2 separate regions of the Homo sapiens genome follow, and region 1 is linked to region 2. The links come from fine-mapping of genetic effects on plasma protein levels. A gene starts in region 2. The other region holds a variant in brackets. All regions are shown on one strand. Distances are between the middles of the regions.

Evidence for each region. PIP is the posterior inclusion probability: the model's chance that the variant is causal. The UK Biobank Pharma Proteomics Project read protein levels with antibody pairs (Olink). The fine-mapping took linkage between variants from a reference panel, not from the people measured, so its PIPs are less certain.
Region 1: its variant is fine-mapped to the plasma level of the TALDO1 protein (UK Biobank, PIP above 0.99).

Annotation. Positions count from the first base shown.
Region 1 is chr11:709,604-713,948 of GRCh38, reverse strand. EPS8L2 (EPS8 signaling adaptor L2) reads right to left here. Exons shown (of 21, transcript NM_022772.4): 3 at 4,341-4,345; 4 at 3,463-3,527. Among named protein-coding and RNA genes, the nearest start is that of EPS8L2, 5.5 kb to the right of the region's middle. RefSeq lists an enhancer at 3,313-4,240. The variant C/A (reference allele first, on the strand shown) is at 2,880.
Region 2 is chr11:744,769-749,142 of GRCh38, reverse strand. TALDO1 (transaldolase 1) reads right to left here and starts at 1,679. Exons shown (of 8, transcript NM_006755.2): 1 at 1,565-1,679. The coding sequence starts at 1,661. LOC105376509 (a long non-coding RNA gene) reads right to left here. Exons shown (of 3, transcript XR_930962.3): 3 at 2,181-2,394. RefSeq lists silencers at 1,079-1,168, 1,269-1,558, 1,619-2,218 and enhancers at 1,398-2,046, 2,349-2,408, 2,047-2,695.

The DNA of each region.
Region 1 (4,345 bases), 35 kb after region 2:
CTGGCCAACATAGTGAAAACAGGTGGATCACTTGAGGTCAGGCGTTGGGGACCAGCCTGGCCAACATGGTGAAACCCCATCTGTACTAAAAATACAAAAATTAGGCCAGGCACGGTGGCTCACGCCTGTAATCCCACCACTTTGGGAGGCTGAGGTGGGTGGATCAATTGAGGTCAGGAGTTCAAGACCAGCCTGGCCAACATGGTGAAACCCCATCTCTGCTAAAGATATAAAAAATTAGCTGGGTGTGGTGGTGCGTGCCTGTAATCCCAGGTACTGGGGAGGCTGAGGCAGGAGAATCACTTGAACCCTTGAGGCGGAGGTTGCAGTGAACCAAGATCACGCCACCGCACTCCAGCCTAGGTGACAGGGTGAGACTCTGTCTCAGAGAAAAAAAAATTTAGCCAGGCGTGGTGGCGGGCGCCTGTAGTCCCAGCTACTCAGGAGGCTGAGGCAGGAGAATGGTTTGAACCTGGGAGGCAGAGGTTGCAGTGAGCTGAGATCGCGCCATTGCACTCCAGCCTGGGTGACAGAGCGAGACTCCGTCTCAAACACACAAACAAACAGAAACTGTGGTGATGAAGGCAGGCAGGTGTTGCCAGAGGTTGGGGGTAGCCACCAAGGTCGGGGATTCACAGGTTTGGAGTGATGGGGCTGATGGGTCGACTATGGTGGCAACAGAACCACACCCCCACGTACACATGGCTTTTACTGTGTGATAACTTAGAAAAAAGCAAACCATGGACCCGGGCTCAGGTGCCCCCCACCCACTGTCAGGGCCAATCTGATCCGGCCCCCACCTGGCTGGAGAGACTTCCCACCAGACTCTCACCCTCTCTCTGGTCCCCAGTGTCCTCATCGGGGAGAGGCAGGAAAGCCCCACCCACCCTCCACTCCTCACTCTGTTGGCCTCTGGGCAGACGAGGCTCCTGCTGGCTGGGGGCCAGGCCAGGCCAGCTGGGGCCAAAGTCCAGGAGCCAGGCTGAGAGGCCCCAGGCTCCTCCCGAAGAGGGCAGAGTCCCTGAGAAAGGTGGTGGAGCTGCCCAGGAAGAGGGGACTAAAGTGAACTCGGCCACTGCTCTGTGCCTTCCCCTGGACACTGAGCTGGCCGAAGTCACCAGCCTGGCTGTATGCAGGGTCTAGCTGCCCAGGCTGCTGGGAGGGCCCTGGTCACCCAAAACAGCCCGATTCAAGAGCTCAGGGACTCCTGATGGCTCTTTGGACCCATTGTACAGACGAGGAAACTGAGGCTCAAAGAGTAGTGACCTGTCTCACCTCTGCAGGTGTGGAGGACAGCAAGGGGGAACCAGGGGGCATTTTGGGCCCCCAGCCAGGGCTGTTTGTGGCAGAAAGGACTGGTCCTGCAGGAGGACCCAGCTCCAGGCTCCCTCACCCTCCCTCCTTTTCCTAGTCCTGTAGGCTTGGACCACAACCGGAAGCCCAGCTCGCACCCAGGCTTGGACGACAACCGGGAGCCCAGCTCGCACCCAGGCTTGGACGACAACCGGGAGCCCAGCTCGCACCCAGGCTTGGACGACAACCGGGAGCCCAGCTCGCACCCAGGCTTGGACCACAACCGGGAGCCCAGCTCGCACCCAGGCTTGGACCACAACCGGGAGCCCAGCTCGTACCCAGGCGCAGGGGCCTTTTTTTTTTTCCTTTTGAGATGGAGTCTCGCCCTGTCCCCCAGGCTGGAGTGCAGTGGCGCAATCCCGGCTCACTGCAACCTCCATTTCCCGGGTTCTAGTGATTCTCCTGTCTCAGCTTCCCAAGTAGCTGGGACTACAGGCTCCCACCACCACGTCCAGCTAAGTTTTGTAGTTTTAGTAGAGATGGGGTTTCACCATGTTGGTCAGGCTGGTCTCGAACTCCTGACGTCAGGTGATCCACCCGCCTCGGCCTCCCAAAGTGCTGGGATTACAGGTATGAACAACCGCGCCTGGTCCCTTTTTTTTTTCTCTTTTTTGAGATGGAGTCTCGCTCTGTTGCCCATGCTGGAGTGCAGTGGTGTGATCTCGGCTCACTGCAACCTCCGCCTCCTGGGTTCCAGTGATTCTCCTGCCTCAGCCTCCCGAGTAGCTGGGATTATAGGTATGCACCACGACGCCTGGCTAATTTTGTATTTTCAGTAGACATGAGGTTTTGCCATGTTGGTCAGGCTGGTCTCAAACTCCTAACCTCAGATGATCCACTCACCTCAGCCTCCCAAAGTGCTGGGATTACAGGCGTGAGCCACCGCGCCTGGCCTAAGACTCTGTTGCCCAGGCTGCTGGAGGGCCGTGGTGGGATCCTCCTGCCTGAGCCTCCCAAGTAGCTGGACTACGAGCTCACACTACCAGGCCTGGCTAGGAGGGGGGAGGATTGCTTGAGCCTAGGAGTTTGAGACCAGCCTGGGCAACATAGGGAGACTTCCATCTCCACAAAAAAATAAAATAATTAGATGGGCATGGTGGGGCCAGCCTGTAGGCCCAGCTACTGGGGAGGCTGAGGTGAGGGGATCACTTGAGTCCAGGAGGCGGAGGCTGTAGTGAGCCAAGATCGCACCACTGCACTCCAGCCTGGGCACCTGGGTGACAGAGCTAGACCCTGTCTCAAAATGAAAGAAAGAAAAGAAAAGAGAGAGACAGAGAGAGAGAGAAAGAAAGGAAGAAAAAAAGACACACACACACACACACACACGCACGCACGCACACACGCACACACGCACACAAAACCCCCCAAAAAAACATTTCCTGAGTTCTCCGTGTCAATGAAACTGACCTAGGAGAACAGAAAAGCCCTCAGGGCTGGCGGCTGGTCCGGCGCGTGCAGGCAGCCCCGTCTGAGCCCTGAGAAGCAGCCCGGGCCTCCCTGAATCCCCCATCAAGGGCGTCTTTGTT[C/A]TGCCTGCTCCCTCCCGATACAGTTCCTCGTTTTGGGGCCAGGATGATCATCTCCTCCAGGGGCTCTTCCCATCCAGGGCTGGGCAGCAGCCACAGTGTTTTCCCGGCACACCCTGGGCTGCCTCACCCCCCAGGCCGCGAGTTCCCAGGACTGGAACCAGAGGGGCGCTTTCCCCGGCCCCGTGGCTGAGCCCGGGACAGTGTGGGCAGTTCTGGCTCTGGCCTCCCCCGGCCCCGTGGGTGTCAGAAGCTGGGCTGACCACTCTCCCTGGAGCTTTCCTCCCTTCCTCCCTTCCTCCCTTTCTCTCTTTCTCTCTTTCTCTCTTTCGTTTTGAGACAGGGTCTAGCTCTGTCACCCAGGTGCCCAGGCTGGAGTGCAGTGGTGCGATCTTGGCTCACTACAGCCTCCGCCTCCCGGGCTCAAGTGACCCCCTCGCCTCAGCCTCCCCAGTAGCAGGGCCTACAGGCCGGCACCACCATGCCCGTCTAATTATTTTATTTTTTGTGGAGACGAGAACCTGAGGACAGCCATGTCCTGAGGGTGCTCCCTGGGGGCGGAGCCTACCTGGGGGCGGGGCCTTACCTGGACGTGGTACTGCGAGGTCTCGTGCATGATGACGTTGGAGTTGGAATACTTCTTCCTCTGCTCTGAACCGGGAGACACCAGTCACTCCCCCGACGGGCAGGACCCACAGCCTCCCGTCCAGTTGGGACTGGACCCACAAGGGAAGGTGGAGTCAAGCGGAGGGAGGCTGCTCCGTGGACCTCTTGGCCACCAGGAAGGATGTGGGTGTGAAATCAGGACCTGCAGGAAGCCCCCTCCCTCCCTCCAGGGAAGCCCCCTTGGAGAAGGACGCAGCTCGGAGAAGGCGATGGGCTTGCTCTGAGTGGAGTGGGGACCAGCAGCCTGTGCCCGGGGGGTTTCTGTCCCGGAGGGTGAGGGGACAGGAAGGGGGTCCCAGCCCGGCTTCTTCCCACTCTGAGAGCTGCCAGCTTCACTCTCCCTGCCCTCCCAGGTCTTCTCGCTTTCCAGACTAGGCACCTTGTCCAAAGACATAAGTGAAGGGTGCATCTAGCTAGCGAGAGGGCAGGGTCGTCTCTGGGGAAGGGCAGAGTGGGGGGAGGTGGGGGCTGGCCAGGCCCCCCTCCTGGAGCAGACACCTGGCGGCTTATCCTGCCTGAACCTCGCTGTGATCAGGTTACAGCAATGAGTGCAGCGGAATCAATATTGATGCTCCCTGAATTATTAGTAAAGGCCTCTCCCCTTACGGGTGTGGGGGAGGGGATCCAGTGGCCAGGAGCTTTCGGAAGGTTGATTAGGGTCCAGAGGCCTCCCTGGGCACCCGGAGATCCCCTGGGCCAGACCAGGCACAGCTGTGGGGCAGGAGCAGCTGTCCCCCACCTGGATGCAGTGCCCATTTCTCCCCTGTGACGTCCAGCCCGTTCTCAAACCTCACTCACCAAAC
Region 2 (4,374 bases):
GTGAGCCACCTCGCTGGGCCAGAAGTTTTCTTAAAAAACAATACAAAACAAAACCAGAAACCCAGGACTCCCCAGCCCTCCTGTGGGTGTGGGTTTAGGAAAATCCATCTTTATTGGCCCTGCACTGCCAAGTGTAATGGACCTGACACTCCGCACCAGCTCTGCCCTAACTGGTGAGGGCCAGTAAGGAACAATACAGATGAGCGCTCTGTCCACCAGGCAAACTGCAAATTATTCTCAGTGCTAAGAAGGGAAAAAACTGAGCAGCAGAAAAATGTGTAGCCCCTTTTCTGGAGCTTTCTTTCTTATGAAGAGAGGTCTGGACTACAACGGGGGGGCTGTGTGTGTGAGGGATTCACAGCTCTAGCTTTGGATCTCCCAAAGAGGGGTCCGGAGCAGACTGTGGCACCCCAAGCCAGTCACTGAATCCCCATATTTTATGGTTAAGCAGCCAAACATGCCAATTCACTCTCTAGGCTCTGCTAGATAAACAATGCCCTTACTCAGTTACCAAAGAGGAATTAAAGCCTGTTTCTCAAGTCACCATGAGAAAGCAGAAAAGAGAGGAAGTCACTTCCGTATTAGGTGCTCGCAGCATTCATCCATGAAGCGTTTCATGATTTTCTTAAAAAATATTACTTGTTCTCAACAAAACATAGACACAAGGCTCGTCTACTCTGCACTGCAGAGGACAGAAGAGCTAAGTATTAATAAATAATCCTTCTTTGTATTTTCCAAGTTCTCTCCAATGTAAACAACTCAAGCCCAGGAAAATCCAGTATTTAACAGTGTACCAACCCTGTGCTTTCATGGGCACCGGCTTTTACCCACCCGGTGCGTCTGGCGGTGGCTGTCCAGCAGGCCGGGCACCTGCCGCCCACGGAGTTGTCCCACTGGGCACCGCAGGGCTCAAGGGCGATGGCAGCACTGGCAGCTTCTGGTCAGAGCTAGCTGATGTCCCCGCTCTGCAGACATCAGCCCAACAAAATTGCATCTCGCTGACCACAAACTGGCCACGTGGAAGTCAGCTCGAAGCTCTACCCTGAATCTCTCCTGAACTCAAAGGCTCTGAAAGCTGCCTCGACCCATGAAGGTGCACAGAGGGGCTCCCGCGGGCTGCCCACAGCCCGTCCCGGGTGCGGGGTCTGAGGGCGCAGCCGACCCCACCCTGGGCGGAGGGCGAGGCTGGGGCTCCGGCTTCGTGCCCCACGGCTCGCAAGGACCCGTCAGTACCGCCCGCACCGCTGACCCCAGCACCGAGCCCCTCACGGCTGACCCCAGCTCCTCACGGCTGCCCCCGGCCCTGCTCCCTCACGGCCGACCCGGGCCCCGTTCCCCTCACGGTCGCCGCTGGCCCTGCGCCTCTCACGGCCGACCCGGGCCCCGCTCCCCTCACGGCTGTCCCTGGCCCCAACATCCGGCACCTGCGCTCATTCCTCCCGGAACGAGCCGCCCGGGGCACCGCCACCCGGTCCGCGTCCCGGAACGGGAGACCCGGGGAAATCGGGGCGCCGGGGCCTCTGGAGGGCGCTTGCGCCGCGCCCGGGCTCCGCGCCGTCCTCACCGTGGAAGTCGCCCGTGTCGGCCACCACGGTGGTGAACTGCTTGAGCTGGTCCAGCGCGGACTCCATCCTCTGACGCTTCACGGGTGAGCTCGACATAGCAAGACCGAGGGGTCTGCGGCGGCGGCGGCGGCGACGGGACGGGCGCGCGGACGGCCCACAATGCCCCGCGGGCGGCTGCCAATCGGAAAGCGGCGCGGGAGGGCGAGGCCCGCTGGTCCCTGCGCGCCTGGACGAAGCCCCGCCCCCGGGGACGAAGCCCGAGCGCCACTGCCGGCCGCGCACCGCAGCTGCGGATCCTACAGGCTGGGTCTCCCCAGGTCCTCAGCAGCCGCCGCGGACGGGCCCGGGAAAACACCTGCACGACACGGGGCGGCTGGGCCTCGCCTCCTTCCTGCCCCGCGGGACGCACCGGGAGGGCTGGAGGAGATGGACCTGGCCCGGGTGCCGACTCTGCGGGGCTGAACCCGCCAGGGCCGAACCCGGCGATGCAGGATCCATGGTGGGGCCAGGACTGGGGTCGGGGGCCGCTGCAGGAAGCAGGGGAGGGAGCGGCGGGGGACGCCCTGCGGGTGCAGGAGGCAGAGCAGGGGGCGGCTGCAGAGCCCGGGCGCCGGACGCGGCGGGGAACCTGCTTCTGGGAATCTGTTCCCCTGAGTCCTAAGCCCAGAGGTGTCCGGGGGACCGAACGGCGAGGCAGGCGTAGGAGGCCCAGCTGCCCTGCTTCTTACCATCGCTGACTTGCAGAGTTCCTTGTATATTCTGATCAAGTCTCTGTCGCTTGTGTCTGCGTTGCAGACACTGTAACCGCCCCATGGGTTCGCCTTGCCAGCTGCCGGGACAGAGTCTATTGTCAAGACAGGGGAATTGCAATAGAGAAAGCATAATTCACACAGAGCCGATTGTTCGGGAGACCAGAGTTTTATTCCTCAAATCAGTCTCCCCAAAACTCGGGGATCCCAGTATTTAAGAATAATTTGGTGGGTAGGGGGCCAGTGAGTCAGAAGTGCTGACTGGTCAGCTAGGGATGAAATCACAGGGAGTCGAAGCTGTCCGCTTATGCTGAGTCAGTCCCTGGGTAGAGGCCACACAACTGGTTGGCAGGTCCAGGTGGGGCCATCCGGTTGTCAGAAATGCAAAAACCTGAAAAGACTTTTTTTTTTTTTTGAGACGGAATCTCGCCCTTGTTGCCCAGGCTGGAGTGCAGTGGCGCGATCTTGGCTAACTACAACCTCCGCCTCCCGGGTTCGAGCGATTTTCCTGCCTCAGCCTCCCGAGTAGCTGGAATTACAGGCGCTCACCACCACGCCCGGCTAATTTTTGTATTTTTAGTACAGACGGGGTTTCATCATGTTGGCCAGCATGGTCTCGATCTCCTGACCTCGTGATCCGCCCACCTCAGTCTCCCAAAGTGCTGGGATTCCAGGCGTGAGCCACCGCGCCCGGCGGAAAAGACTTCTTAAAAGGCAAATCCTAGGCTGACGCGGTGGCTCAGGCCTGGAATCCCAGCACATTGAAAGGCCAAAGCAGGCGATCACTTGAGGTCAGGAGTTGGAGACCAGCGTGGCCAACATGCAAAACCCCGTCTCTACTAAAAATACAAAATTAGCCAGGCGTGGTGGCACATGGCTGTAATCCCAGCTACTTGGGAGGCTGAGGCAGGAGAATGGCTTGAACCTGGGAGGTGGAGGTTGCAGTGAGCCGAGATTGTCCCTCTGTACACTAACCTGGGCTACAGAACGAGACTCCATTTAAAAAAAAAAAAAAGGCCAACCCTAGGTTCACAGTAGTGTTGATATCTTGGGGAAGTTGCAAATCTTATCTTATGACCTCCAGAATAATGGCTGATAATATTTAGACTTCCAGCCCCTCTCATTCTAACTTGGTGGCTGGTGGCCTTTCATTCATTTTACAAGAACAGTCTAGTTTTGGGGAAGGGCTATTATTTAAACTATAAATTAAATTCCTTCCCAAGACTTGTTTGGCCTATGGCCAGTAATGGACAAGGACCGTTTGAAGGTTAGAAACAAGATGGAATTGGTTAAGTCTGTTATCTTTCACTGTCATAATTTCCTTAGTTATAATTTTGCAAAGGTGGTTTCAATACTTCCTCTCAGCATGTGTTCCCTTTTCATTTTAATAGTGTCTTTAATGAACGTTAGCTTTTTATTTTGATTAAGTTCAATTTATCAAGTTTTAATTTTATATTTACTCCTCTTTTTTGGTATCTTCTCTAAGGAGTCTTTGCTTGCTCCAAAGTGACAAATTTTTTTTTTTTTCTGGTGAGATGGAGATTTACTCTTGTTGCCCAGGCTGGAGTGCAATGGCGCGATCTCAGCTCACCGCATCCTCCGCCTCCCAGGTTCAAGCGATTCTCCTGCCTCAGCCTCCCGAGTAGCTGGGATTACAGGCATGGGCCACCATGCCCGGCTACTTTTGTATTTTTAGTAGAGACGGGGTTTCACCGTGTTGCCCAGGCTGATCTCAAACTCCTGACCTCGTGTTCCACCTGCCTCGGCCTCCCAAAGTGCTGGGATTACAGGTGTTAAGCAACTGCGCCCGGCCAACGCCCAGCTAACTTTTGTATTTTTAGTAGAGACAGAGTTTCACCGTGTTAGCCAGGATGGTCTCAATCTCCTGACCTCGTGATCCGCCCACCCTAGTCTCCCAAAGTGCTGGGATTATAGGCGTGAGTCACCACGCCCAGCCAACAAAAATATTTTTTTTTTTTTTTTTTTTTGAGACGGAGTCTCGCTGTCGCCCAGGCTGGAGTGCAGTGGCGCAATCTCGGCTCACTGCAGGCTCCGCCCCC